Regions from separate parts of the Homo sapiens genome. Here region 1 is linked to region 2. The links come from fine-mapping of genetic effects on gene expression. A gene starts in region 2. The other region holds a variant in brackets. All regions are shown on one strand. Distances are between the middles of the regions.

The links.
Region 1: its variant is fine-mapped to the expression of RASSF4 in whole blood (TOPMed, PIP 0.97).

What each region holds. Positions count from the first base shown.
Region 1 is chr10:44,981,570-44,991,560 of GRCh38, reverse strand. It overlaps RASSF4 (Ras association domain family member 4), which reads right to left. Exons shown (of 11, transcript NM_032023.4): 4 at 8,898-9,040; 5 at 7,448-7,539; 6 at 6,591-6,748; 7 at 2,186-2,287; 8 at 1,840-1,891; 9 at 492-613. Among named protein-coding and RNA genes, the nearest start is that of DEPP1, 7.8 kb to the right of the region's middle. RefSeq lists enhancers at 1-559, 7,159-7,659. The variant C/T (reference allele first, on the strand shown) is at 5,557.
Region 2 is chr10:44,955,071-44,964,595 of GRCh38, reverse strand. It overlaps RASSF4 (Ras association domain family member 4), which reads right to left and starts at 4,794. Exons shown (of 11, transcript NM_032023.4): 1 at 4,730-4,794. TMEM72-AS1 (TMEM72 antisense RNA 1) reads left to right here and starts at 4,907. Exons shown (of 8, transcript NR_033842.1): 1 at 4,907-5,004. RefSeq lists enhancers at 1-66, 187-246, 257-336, 4,821-5,115 and a silencer at 4,824-5,043.

The DNA.
Region 1 (9,991 bases), 27 kb before region 2:
CCTGAGGGATACGGGGTCACTAGGCCTCCTACTTGAGGTTCAAACCCTGTAAGCATCTTCTATGCAGAGGAGTTTGGAAATGCACTCACTGTCTGGTCAGAACTCAGGCTGTTGGTAAGACTTAAATATCTCCCTGTTTTCCACAGGTGCGAGGTAGGGCCTAGTTAAAAAGCCTTTGCATAGGTCTCTCACATAATGACAACAAAATACATTCCAATGAAGGAAAAGACTTTACTTCCCTAGAGGAAAAGGACAGGCCATGGTTTTATAGGACCCAAATTCTTCTTTCCCCTAAGCTGCTGGTGCTGGCGGTCACTGATGGGAGAGGGAGGGCTGGCGCCTCCCTGTGCTAGGCTGGGAGCCCTTTGGGAGAGTGTGGAGCTCCTGGAGACATCAACTGACAGGGCTCTGGCCAGGAGTCCTTGGGAGGCCCCGTCACCCAAGAACCCCTCACCCTAGAGCAGGCCTCCCCAGCCTTGGCCCCCACTCACTTCATGGGGGACTTCCACGCCCAAGTCAGCTTCCATCAGGAAGATCCTGGCGATCTTCTCACATGGCCCATGCAGGATTCTGGAAATCAGCGGGTACTCGCAGTCTTTTAATTTTGTCCGCTCTGAAAAAGAAGGTGGTTTACAAAAATCACGGGAGATTAGGATCACCTCTGTCTGTTCCAGATTAGGAACTGATAGAAAATGTGCGTCTAGGGGCGCAGGGAACCCTAAGAACACAGACCTCGCTAACAGCGCTGCCCTGAGAGATTCCTGCTCATGCAGAAGGGAGGCAGAACAGGGCCCCCAGATCTGCCACTTTGGCATAAGGATTAAGTGGAGCGGCTGGCAATTGAGAAGAAGAAGATACAAGTGAGGCTCTTTGCCCTCCCCTATTTGCCAAAAAGCAGGACATAAATTTGTCAAGGTGTGCCCCCGTCCCTCTCTAGGCAATGATGGAGTTAATCACCAGAGACAACCCGAGCCCCTCCTCAGCCTGGAGAGGGCACCAGAGGAACCTGCACAGCACGTCCCGCTGAAGCCCTTCCCTTCCCGCAGCTCCCCGTGCGGTGACCTTCCCACCCTTCGCCTCCCCAGAAACTCAGGCCCTTCTCCTCTGTCTTGTCACTTCTCTAAAAACTTACTGCTCTTTTGTGAATATGCTATTTAAGCCCAAATTCTGACCATTCATCCCTGGATATTCCAAAGGGCATGCATGATGCAAGTGTTAACAAACTTCTGTTTGTTCTTCTCCTTAATCTGTCTTTTGTTAATCTAAATACAGGGCCCCAGCCAGTGAACCTAAATGGGTAGAAAGAGAAGATAATTTTCCTCCCCTACAGTGTCATTCAGCAAAGGTGCAGCTTGAAGAGAAACAAGATCTGAGGGGTGGGAGAAAGGAAAGCTGAGACGGGAGGGCCAGGGCCTGATGCACTGCGACACGCACCCCACCCTTCCTGACTCGGCGCCAAGGAGCTAGGTACCCACCCATCCATTTCTCTGGAAGAGGCGGAGAGGGAGGCTTCCTATAGCTTGGTGGGATTCTCCTTCAGAATCCTGAAAGAATTAAACTTAATGTACTGAGCGACCTAGAAAATCCAAGGACATTTTAATGTGCTTTAAATTCGAAGCCAAAAGTATGTTTTCTTTTCCTCAAGGCTTCCATAGTGTGCCTGGGTTTGGGTGGGGGAGAAATGTTCATGCTGGGAGGCACAGTGTGCCCTAGCCCACTAGGCAAGCCAGCACGGAGCCCATCTGGAAGGGAGTACAGTCAGTGGTTGGTGGGGAGGGGGCTTGCTGAACAGGTAGAGACCTTTTGCTTTTACGATCCAGAAGTGGGGCAGGTACTTACCCCCAGACTCGTGAACGATGTAGAGTGCGAACTCACTGGGGCCATCTTCCACCTGCACAGGCAGTCACAGGAAGTCAGATCACGGTGCTTGGAGATGGGAGAGAACTGAGAGGGTCCCCTGACAGTAACTACACCCCCAGTAACACACACGCAAGTTGCAAGGAACCTGTCCTCTCCCAACCTCCTCTTGCTTGAAATCCGAGAAACCAAAGCTCAGCAGAGGGACCCTTGCTAGACCTTCTGCCCAGGCAGCTTCTGCCACGGGCAGCTTTCCCCAGAACCCCACCCCCAACAGAATAGCAGACCACTGGCATCCTGGGGCAAGGCTGCTCCTGACCAGGCTTACCCTAAATTTGTTCAGCAGCAGGGTGAGCACCTGCAGGGTTGTCATGGTGCTGTTGACCCTCACATTGGTCACGGATCCATAGGCTGGAGTAAACACGGAGGTCTGTACCAGGAAGGGAGAGAAGTTCAGGTCAGGCCCAGAGGGGACAAGGGACTGACATCACAACGGTGAACAGACCAAGGCAGCAGGTGACGCTGAGATCTGGGAACACCTGCACCTGTCCATTCACGCTGATGCACACATAAGCTGTTCCCAGACCTGGGAGACACTCCGGGAAGCTGTAGTAGTGCACTCCTTCCAGAGGCCTAAGGAAGATGTCTACACACCCAGAAGGGCCAGCTCTCTGGACCCGAGGAACCAGGGCCATGGAAGTCATTCACAAGGGTGGGGGAATCAGTCTCTCCATCACTCTTTCTATTGATTAAGTCACCAGTTGTCTGTTGATTCTAAGGCTGAAAGTTACCCAATCTGTCTCCTCCTCTTCATTCTCCCAGCAGTGCCTAGTAGAGGCACTGATCACACCATATCAGCTTCCCAGCTTGTTCCCTTCTGGTCTCAGTCCCTCTAATCCGTAGTCTGCACCGCTGCCTACAGGAACGGACTTCTAAAACCCTTGCACCTCCAAGTGACGTCTAGCCCAGCTGCATCCATACAGTCTCGGCTCCCTTCCCTACCCTGCTCCATACCATCTGAATCAGAGTCTGCGTCTGTAGAACACAAGGCGAAGCGATCTGTGCAGTTCAATGTGAGAAGCACTGTTTGAAAGCGCGGGTCTAAAAGTATCTGAAGGCTTCCTGGGGACTGTGCAATAACATCTGTAGTTCTTCTCATTGTCTCGCACGTATGACACTATGGTTGCCTAACAAGCACCATGTGCTCCAGTCACAGAGCTTCTTCACAATTTGGCTGGGGGGTGGGGGGACACATTATATTTTTGCAGGTATCTTGCCTTTGCCTAAGAGACACCATATATGAAATCAACCAGGACTCTGCCTGACACATAATAGGTCCGTCCTCAATAAACCCTAGCTGTGTATTGAACCCGCTAAGATTTTACATACAATCATTGATTTAATATTCATAACAACCCTTTGAGGCAGCTATAACTAGTCCCCTTTTCTTAGAAAGGAATCAGAGGCTTTAGGAGGTTAACCAGCTTGTTCAGAGTTACCCACCTAGAAAAGACAGAGCCCTGACTCAAAGGATTCCATGATTCCTGAAAACCTACATGTTACCCCCCTGGTGCTGGTGCCTCCCAGCGAATGTGACTCCTCTGCAGGTGAACCTCTCCTTGCTTTTCAAACTCAAGTTTAGATTCGCATATTCCTCCTCTGAGATCCTAGCTCTGTTTTCCCAAGGAGGTAGCTAAGGCTCAGAGAGCTCAAGGACCTATTCAGTATCCCCGCTCTGATAAGTCCAGGCACACCTGGGAGCCATTGTGAGTTCAGGTCCAGACCATCACAATGAAGCGAATATCTCAATAAAGTGAGTCACACAAATGTTTTGGTTTCCCAGGGCATATACAAGATATGTTTATACTATACTGTAGTTTCTTAAGGGTGAGACAGTACTACATCTAAAAAATATGCATGCCTTAATTAAAACTACTTTATTGCTAAAAAATCTGACACAGAGACACAAAGTGAGCACATAGTGTTGGAAAACGGCACCGATAGACTTGTTCAACACAAGGTTGCCACACACCTTCAATTTGCAGAAACCGCAGGTGCAGCAAAAAAAAAAAAAAAAGTGCACATTTTTGCAAATGGAAGGTTGCTGAACAGCAACCTTCCATTTGCAAAAATCTGCAAGGTACAGTAACAAGAAGCACAATAAAATGAAGCACGCTGTGCCAGAGTCAGACTCAACCTCGACCTGCTTCCCCCAGCTCGATTCTAGTTGAGGTGCAGAATGACTGAGTTATACAGAAAGCCAGGATTAGGATTAGGCTTTCTTGTCCAAAGAAATATGGAAGAGAGGGCCAGGTGCAGTGGCTTACGCCTGTAATCCCAGCACTTTGGTAGGCAAAGGCGGGCGGATCACGAGGTCAGGAGTTCAAGACCAGTCTGGCCAATATGGTGAAACCCTGTCTCTACAAAAAATACAAAAATTAGCCAGGCATCGTGGTGCGCACCTGTAGTCCCAGCTACTCAGGAAGCAGAAGAATCGCTTGAACCTAGGAGGTGGAGGTTGCAGTGAGCCCAGATCGTGCCACTGCACTCCAGCCTGGCTACAGAGTGAGACTCCATCTCAAATAAAAAAAGAAACATGAAACAGAGGAGTTAGGCTATTTCAAAGGGACAAAAAGTCTTGTTAACAAGACACTGTGTTTCTTCTGCACGAAGCCTTTTCTCAAGATGATACCAACCAACTCCAAGTAGGAACAAAGGCCCCCTGGCTACTTTCTTATCTCTAACCACAAATGGTTTCTCTCTAACAGAACGCATTTGAATCCAATAGGTCAGGCAGTAGAAACAGCTACAAAGTTTCACCCTGTCTGGAAATAAAACCAACATTTCTGGGAATCAGAACAGTTTTGGAAAATGACTGAGTGAAGTAATGGTGCACAGTTCTAAGAAACAAAACCTGGAACTATCTCAGAAATTCAATGCTAGGAATTATTTATTTTTTCAATTGTTGCCTCTGACTCAAGGAATCTGTCCCCTCATTTCTAAGGACATTAGTTCTGTATGGATGTTGAGCGTGGTAAGAAAGGGCTTTTTGCATAGTGCTTTTCTTTGGGACTTCCCTTACCCAGGAGGTGGGGGAGCTACTGTCCCAAATGCTTAAGACACTATTCTGTGTCCTTGAAAGCAGTACTTTTTTCTGGAAGAATGGATTCACATTGCAAGGGCAAATCTGTCACTAGGAGGAAAAGCTGCCCTCACTGGGTGACAGGCTGAGACCCCATGTTGTCTGGCTGAGTAGCTCTTCTTGATAGTGTGGTTCAGTTGGAAATGAGAGGCTGCGATGAAAACCCTCACTGTTCATTTCAAAGGCTGCAGAGTGCTCAGGACATGCAGAGAGCTCAGTGTTCCTATGACACTGGCAATCACTACAATAAGGTTTAATGTACCAGACACACCTCTTAGTGATGAATGAGACCCTTCGAGGAGAAGCGAATGTACCAATGCTAAACTCCACCATTCAGTACTTTGAATCATGGAGCAAAACATCCCTGCCCCCACCCTTTTTTTGGTAAGGAACATAGAACTGGAAAATACCTAAACCCACGCACATATTTTGGAAAATTTTTGAATAATTCCTTACACTAGCATATCAACATTTATTTGAATGCTAACAATGGGTACCCAACACATTACACACTAAACCCCTTTTGGAACAAGATTTAAAGAATACTCAAGTCATGT[C/T]ATGTGTCCTTGGGCTAATCTACACCTTTGTTAATCTCTGCCTAACTTCAATCCTGGGTCCCCTTTACTCTCTCAGGAGACTCTACTTTGGAATAGTCCTGGATTTTTCCAGATTTAGCAAAGGCAACCCTATTGTCATTCATTCACTCACCACAAGCCTAGCAGGGGGTGGAAGGGAGATCCTGAGATTAAAGCAGGGTCCCTTCAGCTTGCCCAGCAGAATTCCAAAGTAGACATTCCAAAGTCCAGGGCACCCTAAGTGTGGCTTGAATGGCCCCTGGATAGCCTAACCTGGGACACCTGCTCCTTCAGATCGGACCCTGAGACCCTCCTCCTGAGCCCCCTCCCTGCCATAAGTCATCCTCTATCAAGAAGGGCAGCTGCTTCAACTGGAAATCTCGGCTTGCATTTCCCAGTGCTGAGGGAAAGATATGGCCTGTCACAAGACGCTCCATCCAGGGCCTTGCCCAGACAGCCAATCATTCTATTTACAGTAACAATCAACTTCTCCTGCTACAGTTCAGTTTGTTTATAGAATGATGTAATTTGGGGAAAGAAAGCTTTTCCTGAGGTCAGTACAATGCATCCTTGGACAAAAGGCTGTGTGCTGGGAATCTGGGGTCGTCCAGGTTCTCTGGGGCACAGACACATGTGCCCTGGGCACACCCCTGCTTAATTATTCGGTGAGAGTGATGGCTGGATACACAGTGTTCCCAGGGATCAACCAATCGAGTTCGGGGGGAAGCCTCCTAGAAAGCGCCCTCATTGAAGACACGGTCAGCGTTACTGTCTGCCCAGGGCATCCCCAGCTTACTTGCCAGAATTCTGTGTGACTTGTGAGGATGCACTGACAGTGAGCATGTGCTGGAAAATGCTTAGGTCATAAACGGGGCTGTTATGTGGATGCAACCTGGTTTTTCCTCCTGAGGGCACAGGAATGCCAGCAGCCCCCACACAGGTCATGGTGCTTGCTGTGCCTGTGCTCAGGCCTGGCTCCCCATGCGCCCAGGGGAGAGGCCAGGCTGGGGCATCACCTTATGATTGTAGAAGTGGCCGTTGATAGAGAACCGGTGTCGCCGGATGCGCTGGGCCTCACCGGGGGCGCGGCACTTGGGCCTCCTCTGGCTCATGCAACTGGCGTCGCTCTTGGTCCGCATCAGCTGGGGGGCCTCCTCTGCCTCCTCCAGGGGCCCTGCATGAGAAATGGGTGAGAGAATGGCAGGGTGGGTGATGCTGACAGAGCAACTGCCTGCTGTCGGGAGATCTGGCACCCTAGAGCCCTGTGGTCACGTGCACTGGGGCAGATGGGGACGTGAGGGCCATTCCTGGACTGGAGGCTGGATATTCCCAGCTTGCAGATAGGAAGGTGAGACCCAGACAGGGTAACCTGGGTCACAATGTCACATGGCCATACCCCTCTTGGTCTCTGTCTTAGGGTGCCCATGGAGGTCTTTGGTGGCCCCAGCCCTGTCTTCTGAGCCCCTGCTCTGAAACAGGCCCTTCACTGAGGGCTAAAGGAAGGGGAATAAAAAGGATGAGTGAGCAGGTACAGAGGGTGAGGACGAGGTCGCAGAGGGAGGTGAGGGGCCAGGAGAGCGCAGTGCCTTCTGTGGATGCTCCTGTTTCCCATAGCACACACAGGGCGGGGGACTCAGGCCACCCCCACACTGTCACTGTCACCTCCCAAGCCTCTGCTCACTTTTCCATAAAAAGGAGCGAGAATGAGGGCAGAGCACCTCACAGGCAGGCACCTGGGTAGGGGTCCAGCAGGTGAAGCCCCTCGTTGGCTGGGGCACAAAGCTGTCCTTCGGAGATTGTGGTTGTGAGCCAAGCCCCTCTGCTCCTACCCCGGATGAGGCAGGGGTCTGGGCAGCTTGCGGGCTCCGCTTACCCGAGCTGTCTGTGGAACTCTCAGCCTTGTGCACTGGCTGAATGCTTGGCCCCTGGGCTGTGATGTTCCCGTTCTGGGGCGATGGCTCCTTTCTGAAAACAGACAACTGCAGGGCTGAGATGGCTGCCGGCAGAGAAAGGGAGCTCAGGCCAAGGAGAAGAGACCAGCAGCCCCTGGGGTAGGACACAGGCGGGAAGCAAGGCAGGCTGAGGTGAGGCCTGGATTTCAAACCAAGAGAGTCAGTCTGAAACAATAAAAGAAAAGTAGAGGCCTCCCCCCAGCATCTGCTGGACGGAGAGTGAGCCTGGCCCTGCAGACCTGAGGGCTTGTGCTGGGCTGCATCGCACAGACACACGGACACATGAACATAGTCAGGGCCTGCGCATTCCTAGACACCAGGCTTAGCCAGGCCAGCAGCTGTGTGCCAAACAGGCTCGCTGGGCTTCCCGAAGGCCTAGTGGGGTGTCAGGCAGGGGCCACCTAGAAGGGCCCAACCTCCAGGCCTCTTGGCAGGATGAGCCCCAGGCCAGGGTAGCTAGTGCTGGGCTGGAGAAGGAGTGGGTATGATGGGGCACAGCCCTGTAGCCCAGGGGACCTGGGGAAGAGAAGACAGATGGGATCCTGGAGAATACACGGGCACAGCCGCGACTGCTGTCTGTGAGTGCTTTACCTCGAAGAGGGGCACATGTGAGTCACACTTGCAGCCTTCCTAAGGAGTCTGACTTTATGCTCTAATTCTGTGTGCCTCAGAATTCGCTGAGTGACTGGGGACACCTAGGTATGTGCTGGGGCTGTCAGGGTGGTGGGTGCTGTCACAGCATGGGTTTCATATGAAATCTGAAGGGGGCAAAGCTCTGAATGTGTGCCCTCTACAGGAGTTACTACTGCAGAAGCAGGCAAGGCCCAGCTACTAACTGCGTCTTTTGGGAGTGGGCCGAGGAGGAGATAAATGTGCATTGAATGGTAAGGCAGGCAGGAGACCATTTCCTCCTGACAGAAACATTATTCTGATATTAAACAAATGTAATGTGAAATTCTGATAAATTTATTTTTAAAATTTTGACATTAAAATGAAAACAGAGTAGTAAGAGGCTAAATTCGTGTGAATTTTAAAGATAGAACAAGAGATGGCGAGACATGTTCGGCTTGCATAGGTGTTGGGAGCCCCCCTGGCTGTAGTCGTCCCTTCTTGCCAGCAAGGTGGCTTGCAGGAAGGTTTGAGAAACAGAAATAGAGGTCATGGGAGCCTGGAATGTTCTCCAGGAAGGAGGGAGAGGCCACCCTGGGCGAGGCTGTGGACTGAGGCAGTCACAGGGCATGGGGATGAGGCTGGGTCACCCTCCTGTGCCAGTGTCCCATAAGGGAACAGGGCTCCCACCCTGAGGCTCGGGATATCCCCAACCCGGGAGCTCAGGCTGAGCAGGTGTCACAGAAGCCACCGGGTACTCACAGAGGGCAGCTAGGCCGTCTGGGCATCCATGAGGTGGAGGGGAGGTGCACCTGCTCCCGGTCATCCTGCATCTGCAGCCGGATGGGCCGCCTCAGCCCCCAGGCAATGTTGAGGAGCCCCTCGATGATCAGAGTCCCTTCTTCCTGTGGGGGTCCACACATCAGCCCTTCCCCCAGAGCAGCTGCCTACCTTCCCTGTGCCCCCTAGGGATGGGATGCTCTGAACACTCAGGCCTTGCACATCCCTCCTCCTGAGTGGCCCCATCCCCTCAGGAAGGACCATCAGCCACTACGTGCCCTGGGGCGTGTGACCAGGCCCTGTGGGAGGGAGCCTGAGATGTGCTCAGCTCATGCCTGGCCAGGGGCACAGCGCAGAACACAGTGGCTGAGTCAGGTGTCCCACAGGAAGCCAGCTGCTGGCCGGCAGGCACGTCCACACCGCGGTGAAGAAGTGGTTCCAGGGACGCACAGCCTGTCTGCTCATGCCAAGCAGGGGACCTCTCTGCCCACACTGCACCTGGGAGGGGGTCCTGCGCCACCAGGTCCTATGGCCACCAGGCCCGGCAGGGTCCCACACCCACCAGAGGAGAAGTGGGCACTCTCTGTCCTAGCTGTGTCTCAGCCTCACCCTTCTCCCGGTGCCTTCCAACAGCAGCAGCGTCCACTTGCCAGGGCTGACAAAGGGTCTTGCTTTTCTCACCACTGCTTAGACATCACTAGCCCTATATCCCATACCAGAATTTCTACAACAGCCTTCATCCCATGTCCCCAACCTCCCTCGGTTTCCCTAGGTCTGCAGGTGACATGGCTTCTCTCCTGCTGCCAACCTGGGGCCCTAATCAACAGAGTCCTCTGCACGCACCTTGCTAGTAGTGCTGGTTGGCACCCCTTGGGCCCTTGATTCAGTGCCTCTGACCTATTCCAGGCCTCTGTCTCTGCGAGACCACCCCAGGCCTCTGTGCCAATCCCGGTCACTCTGTGTGTAAGCCTGGCCAAGCTGAGTCATTTGCCAGAATACTTGCCAGCAACCTCAGCTGCCCTCTACCCAGAGCCGCAGTCTCGAAACTACACACTCCTAATGTGCTCTGACACTAG
Region 2 (9,525 bases):
CCAATACACAAATGGATTAAAGCGAGGCTGCATGGGTGGCAGCAGGAGTCAGGAGAGGATGGGCTGGGGCTGGCCTGCCACCCAGGCTCAGGCTCAAAAAACCACAGAGTGACAGATGCAGCTGGACAGGCCAAGTCGGCCAGCAGGCTCTCCCCTCCTCCAAGCCGTGCCATTCTGCTGGGAAAGTACAGCTTTCTTTGTCTGGGCCCGTTCCCCTCCCCCAGGTCCCAGGACATAGCTCAGGCCTCCACGCCTGTTTCCCAGGCTGGAGGACACTCTGTCCCCAACCAGAGTGATCAGCTGCAGCCAGGGCTGTCTGTACCCCAGAGGAGGCCCCCTAGGCGGCATGCCAGCCATGGCTACCTGTCCCAGTGAACAAGCAGTGAGTTGTTCTCCCTTTCCACTTCAGCAGCTGCTCTGCCAGCCGTGCAGAGAGAGACAGTCTGCTGTCACTACTGAGGGACAAAGGCCGCCGAGGGCTTTAGAGCTGCTAGGCATGGGCCGTCTTTCCTTTTTTGTGTTTGTGGGGAAAGTTATTACAGAAGAAGGTGACTGTGATTCTTTCAGTCACCCCCGGGGCCCAATTCCTACAGGCCAGTGGCAAAAGGAACAGAAGATGCCGAGTGAAGTGAGGCTTTCGTGACACGAAATTGAGTCCACTTGAAAGCCTTTTATTTTAAGACTGTGCTGCCTGCTTTTCCTTCTGACAGTGTCCCTTCTTACATAAAACATGGCCAACACAGATGTGGTGTCCTCACTTGGCAAAAGGGAAAACGTACAGGCATCCAAATTAAAATGTTCTAAGCATATCTGTGAAGTCTGAGAGCTTGGTTACCTCTGTTTTCACATTTCCTGAAATTGTGATTTTTATTTTCTTATTTCAGCGTGATTTAAATCAAATAGGTCATAACGAAAGTGACCTGGGAAGCAAAAGAAAGGAGGACAAGTGTGTGGGGCACAGCTGGGAGCCTGAGCTGCTCCCGCTGGTGGAGGACAGCAAGTGCAGGCCACAGAGCAGGTGCAGGCCACGCTGACGGCATTCCTGGGGGGACTAAGTTCCTGACTGCAGTCTGTGGCTACCACATTCGAATTGCCAGCCACAACGGCAGCAGGGCACAGAGGACAATGAAGCTTTAAAAGGCCCCTCCCAGCACCTGTTCGCCAGCAAATGGCAGGAGCCTGGCCAGTGAAGAAGTTGCAGCGTCTGCCGAAACCAGGTGCCTCTGAGGGGGTACCCTCAGCCAAGCATTTTTGTGGTGAGAGCCGGCTGTCTGGTTGTAGATGGCAGGCGGCGACTCAGCAGCTGCTGCTCCCACCTCCTTCCACACTGCTGTCCCCTCCTGCTGCCCAGTTCCAATCACCAGACCCCTCCTCTCCACTCCCGCCATCATCCCTCTGGCTCAACTCACTCCTCCCTGCCCCAGAAGACTCTGCACTGTCCAGGTGGAGGTGATGGAGACCAGGGGAGTCCAGGAGAGGCGGGCACAGAGCTCCCCTCCACCTCCACTCCCGCCTTGCCCTGGACTGACCACACAGGCCCAGCTCACCTTTACTCCCCGCTGCGGTTCTGGCCTCTCACTGACAGGTCTCTCTGAGTCCAGTCCAGCATCCAGGCCTCCCTGATACAGCTCCCCTTCCTCTGAGAGCCTGGCCCTGAGCAGCCATGTAGATCGCAGACCAGCCTTCCCAGTGGGCAAGACTTCTGGCTTCTGCCCTTGTTTCAAGGCAAAGCAATTTGGGACAAGAAAACCATTTCCAGTCCTCCTGCTCCCCCCTTACACCTTAAACATACATTCTCTGCTCCTGGAACCCCCTGAACCACTCCTCAACTTCCCCACCAACCAGGCTCACCTCTAGCCTATGGAAGAGAAGATCCACAGAAACAAAGATCTTCTTAGCTATGGTTTTCGGGCCAAACGTGCTCAAAATGGGCACTGTCCAATATCCCGATTGCCTGGGGCTGGGAGTGCAATGCAGAGGGGCAGACCCCTCTGGGTGCCTGCTGCTGCAGGGCTGCTCTGGAGGCTCTCTACGGCTGCCCTCACCTGTGCTGTCCACTGCCCCAGGCCTGTGTGCCACATGTCACTGCTGGGGACATAAGGGCCCTGTGAGACAAAAGGGTCCCAGAATCTTTTGGGTCATAGAGTCCTTTGGAGTCTCTTGAAAGCTTAGTGCACTCTCCCCAGAAAATGCATGTATGTGCATGTTGTTGCAATCTGCATCCACGTGCAAACACACACACAATTTGCATATCACTGCAGGGAGATGAGACAGCTCTTGTCCATGTACTCCCAGATCCCCAGATCTTAGGTTTAGAATCTCTGCTGAAACCTGTCACAGCAAGAAAGAGGAGGCAGAGGAACGTTGTAGAGCCTTGCATGTGAGTTTTGCTGTGGCATTAACTTGGCCTGTGATCCTAGCGTGTTGCGCCGTCTCTTGGGCATCAGTTTAGCCAGAGCTGTTGTGGCAGCTGATAGAGAGTCTTCAGGGCTCTTCCCAGCACTGCAGCTATGGGGCTCAATGACACCCCACCCCTGCTTCCCAAGGTCAGGCAGGGCAAAGGGAGGGGGTTCCGGGCCTCTTCCTCAACAGTATATCCTAGGGCAGAAGGTGGGACAGCCAGAAAAGGAGACCCCGGGAACTACAAGTTTCTCTTTTACAAAAATAAGAAAACTGTTGAAGCTTTAGGAAGTGCAGCCACTTCTTATTTGATTTTCTTTATTTTAAAACAATTTCCCCAAACATACTCTGTGAGAGAATAACCACCTAGCCTTTGCAAGGCTCTGGGTTTAAAGCTCTGCTCTGTGACTGCCTGGCTCTGTTACCTTAAGCAAGTCCAGTTCCCTCTCTGAACCTTGGGCTCCTCATCAATTAAATAACTATAATCCTCGATGACTTCTGTGAAGACGAATGAGGAGACCTGTAAGATGGGCCTTGTGTTGGGCTCACCCATAATGAAAAGAGGCTCCCATTACTATTCTTATTGACACTGGGAGTTGGGGGCTCTGGAGAGACTGTGGAGCCCCAGAGATGGGAATGTGAGGCCTGCCTGCAGGAGTGGCCATGAATGAGGAGAGAGTCTGAGCTGACACCTGAAACCAGGCCCCAGACCCCAGGGGCCCAGGGCAGAGGGCTTTCTGGCAGATCCCCTAGTTAGGTCTCCCCTTTGAGGCTTTGCACGTCCAGAATCTGAACTCTGACACACACCCAAGTTTCGTTCATGTTCTTTGTTATCTGTCATGGTCCACTTGGTCCTGACCCAGGGCGACCCTGGACCTTGATTCTGTTCTCGACCTCCAGGCTACCCACTGGAGCTTCATGGTGGAAATACAACCCAATCTCCTGAGTTTCAGACAGACACTTTAATCTGTAGCATCAACCTTTTTGTTGTCAAATCACCAGCACTACACACTGAGAGAATTATGGCTAGAACTAATGACAACAGCCTTCACATACACTGACAAAGTGCTGAAACAGCCCATGACAATTTCCGGCCAGCATTTTTTTAACCTAAGTTTAATGAGTTTCATCTCTCCTCTTCCCTCCCTTCCTCTTTCTCCTCTGACCCTCTCCCTTCCTGTCTTCTCCCCTAACCTGCTGTCCTGGCAGAAGTAGCTAAGGAACCACACAGAGGAACAGAAGGCAGGATGGTCTACATTTACCTGTTACTTCACCAATTCACTTCTAACTTAAAAAAAAATGGTTTCTGGCAACAAATCCTGATTGACACCTTAGTACTGTGGGCAGTTAAACTACAGCAAAGCCAGCGAGGGGCTCCTCTGTGAGTGCAAAGCATAGCTTTGGAGTCTAACCTGCTTGGGTTCAAATTCCAGAAGCCCAGCCCTTATTTGCTGTGCGACCTTATTTAATTCCTATGTGAAATGGGGCTCCTGAAGCTGTCCTTACTGTGTTTTAAGAAAGTGCTGGCCCTGGCCTGGGCACTGATTCTGGTGTGAGAGGAGGCCTCCCTCCCTCCGCCGTGCCAGGTTAATGAAAACACTGAGGCATGTTTTGGAAGTGGGAAGTGCAGGATGGGACCGGAGTCAGGAGCCCAGAAGAGCAGGGCAGCAGGCAGGCTGACCTTCGGAGACTAAGGGTGAAGAGCAAGAGACTCAGGGGCACAACAAGCCCTGGGTTCAAATCCTGGCTCCATCACCAACTCATCCGGTAAAGGTGGACAATTTTATAACTCTTTAAGCCTCAGTTTTCACATCTGAAAAGGGGATAACGAAAGTAGGACTCTCACTTGCTGTGAGGAGTAAGAGGCATATCGTGTTAAAGCACTTGGCCCAGAGCAAGGCGAGCCCTCTACAGACAGCGATTGTGAGACAGACCCCCCCTGCTGCTATTATCTTGGCGTTCGATTTCCATCAGTGAAATCAGAGTTGTGCCAGAGGCCTCTAGGCTCTCTCCCCAACTCTAGGATCAGTGCTTCTAGGAAACTGGTTAAGGACAAGGTGAACAAAAAAGGTGTAGCCAGTGGCCGGGCTCATCTGTCTTGCTCAGGTTGTAGCCCCTAAATTGCTTAACAGAGGTGCCAGGCGCAGTGCCCCCTCTCAGCAATGAGCCCGAGGCCCGCAATGCGCCAGGCTGGCGGGGGAGGGACCCTGCGCGCTGCGGCCGAAGGGCACAAGTGCCCAGGCTTCAGCGTCCCTGCCTGGTGGCAGTCCTGGGTCGGAGGGGATGCTCCATGGACGCCCAAGCACTCTCCTGCTCGTTCATCACTCACCGTCCAGTCATCGCGCAGTCCAGAAGCCACTGCATGTGTCGTGTCCTCGCTTGCACCGGAGCTGCGCCCGCAGCGCCTGCTGACCCCAGGCTTCAGCTGCTCGGGGCCAGGCCCGCCCCTCGCCCCGCCCCTCGCCCCTCGCCCCGCCCCGCTCCCCGCCTCTCGCCCGGCACGGCCAAAGGTGCCGCCCCGGTCTCTCCGTCCCGCCCCGAGCACGCCCCTCACTCCGCACCGGCCAATGGCACCGCCCCGTCCGCCCCGCTCTGGGAACGCCGGTAGGTTCCGGGTGCAGGGCGGTGGCCTAGGGGCGGCGGGGAAGATTTGGGGCCTGCGACCTGCCAGGTGTCCCCAGGCCATTGTTCAGCTCGCCGCGCGCTCCCGAGTTCCCGAGGGCGCCCCGGGACGCGAGGAGAAAGCAGCCCGACTCAGCCCCGAGAGGTTCGGTGTGCGGGCAGCGGCCAGGGACTTTGCGGGGTAGCGCGGACTCCTGGACTTCCAACAAGGGCCGCTGCGCAGGCGCTGCAATCACTGCAGGCACTTGTCTGCATGCCTGGTGGGGCTTGGAGTCTGGGGAGGCTTATCAGTAAAGCCCAGAGCATTTGCTATTTATTGCTCAAGGGGCACCTTTGTACAGTCTGGCCGTTTGCTTGGCATGGCCTCTTAGAACTCCTTATTGTTTAAGAAATCCGATCTGGTGAATAAGAAGTTAGTCTTTCTCTCCCAGTCACTGCCTCCTGGACGAATATTTGCCAGCACGGAGGCAGAGAGGACAGAAAACCACAAGCCATTTGGGGAACTGGGAACAGTTCAGTGTTTCTGGGGTGTGGGGGTGTCAAGGTGGGGGATGGGGTTGATGGAAAACATTTGCAATTTCTGCTTTACCTCACGATTCCCAGCTCTGACCTCTGGACCTGTTCTCTCCCACCCCTAACATAAATCATTTTAGTTTCATTCAGTGTGCGTTTCCTAATATTTTTAGGGTCTCATGGCCATTTTAGAATCTGATATGGATCTTCTAGAAAGTGCAGGTGGCCATATGCACCAAAATCAGCCTGGGATTTGAGTCTCATGGGTCCCTGAACTTCGACTTAGAGGGGCTGTGCTAATGCTTGTATGGCTGCTGTATGACTTATGTTGGAACCCCCACCTGCAAAAAGTGACAGGACTGAAGATACCCAGTCCAGGGGCCCTCCCGTTTCTGCGTTTGCTTGAATTTTTGGAGAATGGCCCATCCTTTGACAGCTCTGAGGCTCCCTGTGGTTGGTGACTTGTCATGACACATTTGCTCTTCCACAGCCCTCATCAAAGCTGAGACAAATAATCGGGTGCTTCCAAAGGTTTTTTAAAAGTGGGTAAAATTCAATATAACTGTCAACCTCTGAGCATGAGATCCTAAGAATTTAATCACTCCTGATAGGAGAAGTAAACATAGCACCAGGGTGACATAACAGTTTCCCTGGGCTCTCCAGAACTCGAGTGTGAATCATTCTCTCTGACCTAATTAATGCTGTTCACAGGGCCATGACTGGCTCTGAGTGAGGACTGGGTTTGGGACAGCAACCCCATGTGTCCTGTGCACCCATTGTGGGCTCAGACACTATGCTAGTGCTTTACATTGGGGATCCCATGCAATTCCCCCAGCACTCCTGGGCAGTTGGTGTTACTGCTTGCATTTTTTAAAATTTCCATTTTTATTTTAAATTTAGGGGATACACGTGCGGGTTTGTTACAATTGTACATTGTGTGGTACTGAGGTTTGGGATTGATCCTGTCACCCAGATGGTGAGCATAGTACCCAATAGGAAGTTTTTCACCCCTCGCCCCGCTGTCTCCCTCCCACTTTTGAAGTCCCCAGTGTCTATTGTTTTTATCTTTATGTCTAGGTGAACCCGATATTTAGCTCTTTTGCTTGTAAGCGAGAACATGTGGTGTTTGCTTTTCTATTTCTGCATTAGTTCGCTTAGGATAATGGCATCCAGCCACATCCATCCTGCTGCAAAGGACACGATTTTATTCTCTTTTATGGCTGTGAGTGCTTGCATTTTACATCAGACACAGGTGTCCATTGTCAGCGTCCTCCCCTCAGAAGGGGAGGGTCCATTGTCAGACCCCTCAGAAGGAGGGGTCACCTTTTCTTTCAGGGTTCAGTAGAACTGGGTGTGGTCTCCAGCTCACTTATGGTGGAGGCTACAGATACTGTTGGTTGCCAGCCAATGTCCATTTCCTTCTTTGGAAAAAAGAAAGATAGGAAAGAAGGAAAAGGACAAAAAGGAAGGAAGGAAGGAAGAAAGGGAAAGAGGGAGGGAGGAAGGAAGGAAGGACGGAAGGAAGGAAGGAAAGAAGGAAAGGAGGGAAGGAAGGAAGGAAAGGAGGGAAGGAAGGAGGGAGGGAGGAAAGAGGGAATGGGGAAGAGAGGAAAGAGAGAGGGAGGGAGGGAAGGAAAGGAGAGAGAAATACCCACTTGTCTGTAGCAGCAACATGCCAGCCCCTAGTTATGGCTCATGCCCACTTGTATTTTTCATACTCTACTTACAACCCAATAGTGGGTCATGAAATTAATTTAGTTGATGATGTGACTAGTACTTCAAAAATGCAAGGGAAAATACCAGTGTACAGCACAAATAGTAAATATAAGTTGTGTTTTGTGGAACTTTTTGTTTGCATTGTTTATGTTTCAGTTATGTGTGCTTCTTACTGTGGGTTACAGTTAAAAAAAACAAAACAGCTGTCTAAGTCTTGACAATCCTTTTCATAGCTTTTTTTCAGTGAAGCTAGAAGTGGCCATACGACCTACTTCTGGACGCAGAGATGGGGGAAGGTGTCCTGGGGGAGGAGAGATCTGAGGGATGGTGAAGATAACTTTTGCTTTTCTGGTAGAAAGAACAGATGTCTCTCCTGCCTGCCTGTCTCAAATGAGGACATGATGTGTAATGTCTGGAGCACTGGCAGCCATGTTGAGATCATAAAGCAACATGTCCGCATGCTGAGGCTGGCAGAGCATAAAGATCAAAGGTGTCTGGATCCTTCTTAACATCATGGAGCTTCTGCACCAACCCTGCACTGCCTACTCCAGACTCCCTACCATGGAGAAAAATTAGCCCCTATTTCTTCAAGGCAGAGGTTGGTAAACCTTTTCTGTACAGGGCTGGATAGTAAATATTTTAGGCTTTGTGGGCTAAATGGTCCGTGTCACAACTACTCACCACTACTGGGGTAGTTTGAAAGTAGCCATAGACAATATGTAAACCAAAGGACATGGTTGTGGTTCTCATAAAACTATTTTAAAAAATGGATGGCAGGGCTATAGTGTGCCAACCCCTTCCCTAGATGATCTTGTCCCCTAATTGTCTCTCTGACCTCATCTCCTCCTACTGCCTCTCCTTCTCCCTGCTCTGATCACACTGTTTCTCCCACACACCCAGCCTGTTCCTGTCAGGGTCATTCCTTCCCTTGGAGGGCTCTTTCCCCAGATGTCCACAGCGCTCCCTCCTTCCCCTGCTTCAGGTCTTTAATCACAAATCACCTCCTTTTTCAGGTCGTCCCTGGGCCCTCTGTAAAATGCCCGTCCCTGACCCACGCATACCACTCTGGCATGCTGTATATTCCAGTCTTTATCATGAGCTCCTAGAGGAAGAGACACTATGTTTCCTTAAAAACTGATTCTGTCTGGATTGTCACAGTGTTTAATCAATATCTGATGTATGATTGATTTTTTTTTTTTCTTTTTGCCAGATTCAGGTAAGAAAACAAACTCAGGGAGGCTGAGTTCCCCCTCCAAATGACATGTGCAGATAGTGGCAGAGTCCAGGTTTGTGCCTGATGGCCCAATGTGGTGGTGTCTGTACCACCCGGGAGTGAGGGAAAAACAACATCTACCTCTAATGGAACACACTGGGTCTCAGGGGAGCCAAGGCCACACAGAAGTTCCTGCAAGACTCCTTGCTCCAGGGCGCCGCCCCAGTAAAGGAGGCCTTTGGGAGTCCATTAAGTGAGCAGGGTGTCCTGTTCGTCTTGGGCAATTGCATTCTTTTTGGCCTTCCTACCTCAGAAAGACTTAGGAAATGCTGTTATTCTGCAAACAGTTTGGACTGACTTGTAAGATCCGTAAAAAGACAAATGGAAACACTCATGAGCCAGTGTTTTTATGAAAGAGCCGCAAAGGATAAATTTATGTTTAATTCGCAAGTAGGGAAGCTCATAAGAGCCTAAGAGCTTGATAAAGGCTACTGGGCCCATCTGTCAGGCAGGCTGCTCTGTGTGGTTTTGGCTTGAGGCATCTTGGCACCAGGGCACAGCTTCCAAAAGACCGAAAAATTACCTTCTTCCCTTTGGTGCTCCCAGGGGGAAATGCCTGGGTACAATCACATGTTGTTGAGATGTCATTTAGATTTTTGAGTCCTGAAAAATAGGTTTATATATCTTGATGTAAATGATATTAATAATGAGAACCATTTTCAAGCCATTCTCTTAAGACAGTAAGTGGGATTTTGAATTAATTTCTGATAGATCTGATTGATTCCTTAAGGCCTTTTATGGATGGCTTCATGTGATTTTTTCCCCCTTCATTGTATCCAACATTAAATTAAAAACAAATGACTTTTATTTCTCTTTCTTCTTTTTCTTTCTCTTTCTTTCTTTCTTTCTTTCTTTTTCTTTCTTTTTCTCTTTCTTTCTTTTTCTTTCTTTCTCCTCTCTCTCTCCCTTCCTCCCCCTTCTTTCCTTCCTTCCTTTCTTTCTCTCTCTCTCTCCTTCCTTCCTTCCTCTTTCCCTCCCTCCCTCCCTGCTTGCTTGCCTTC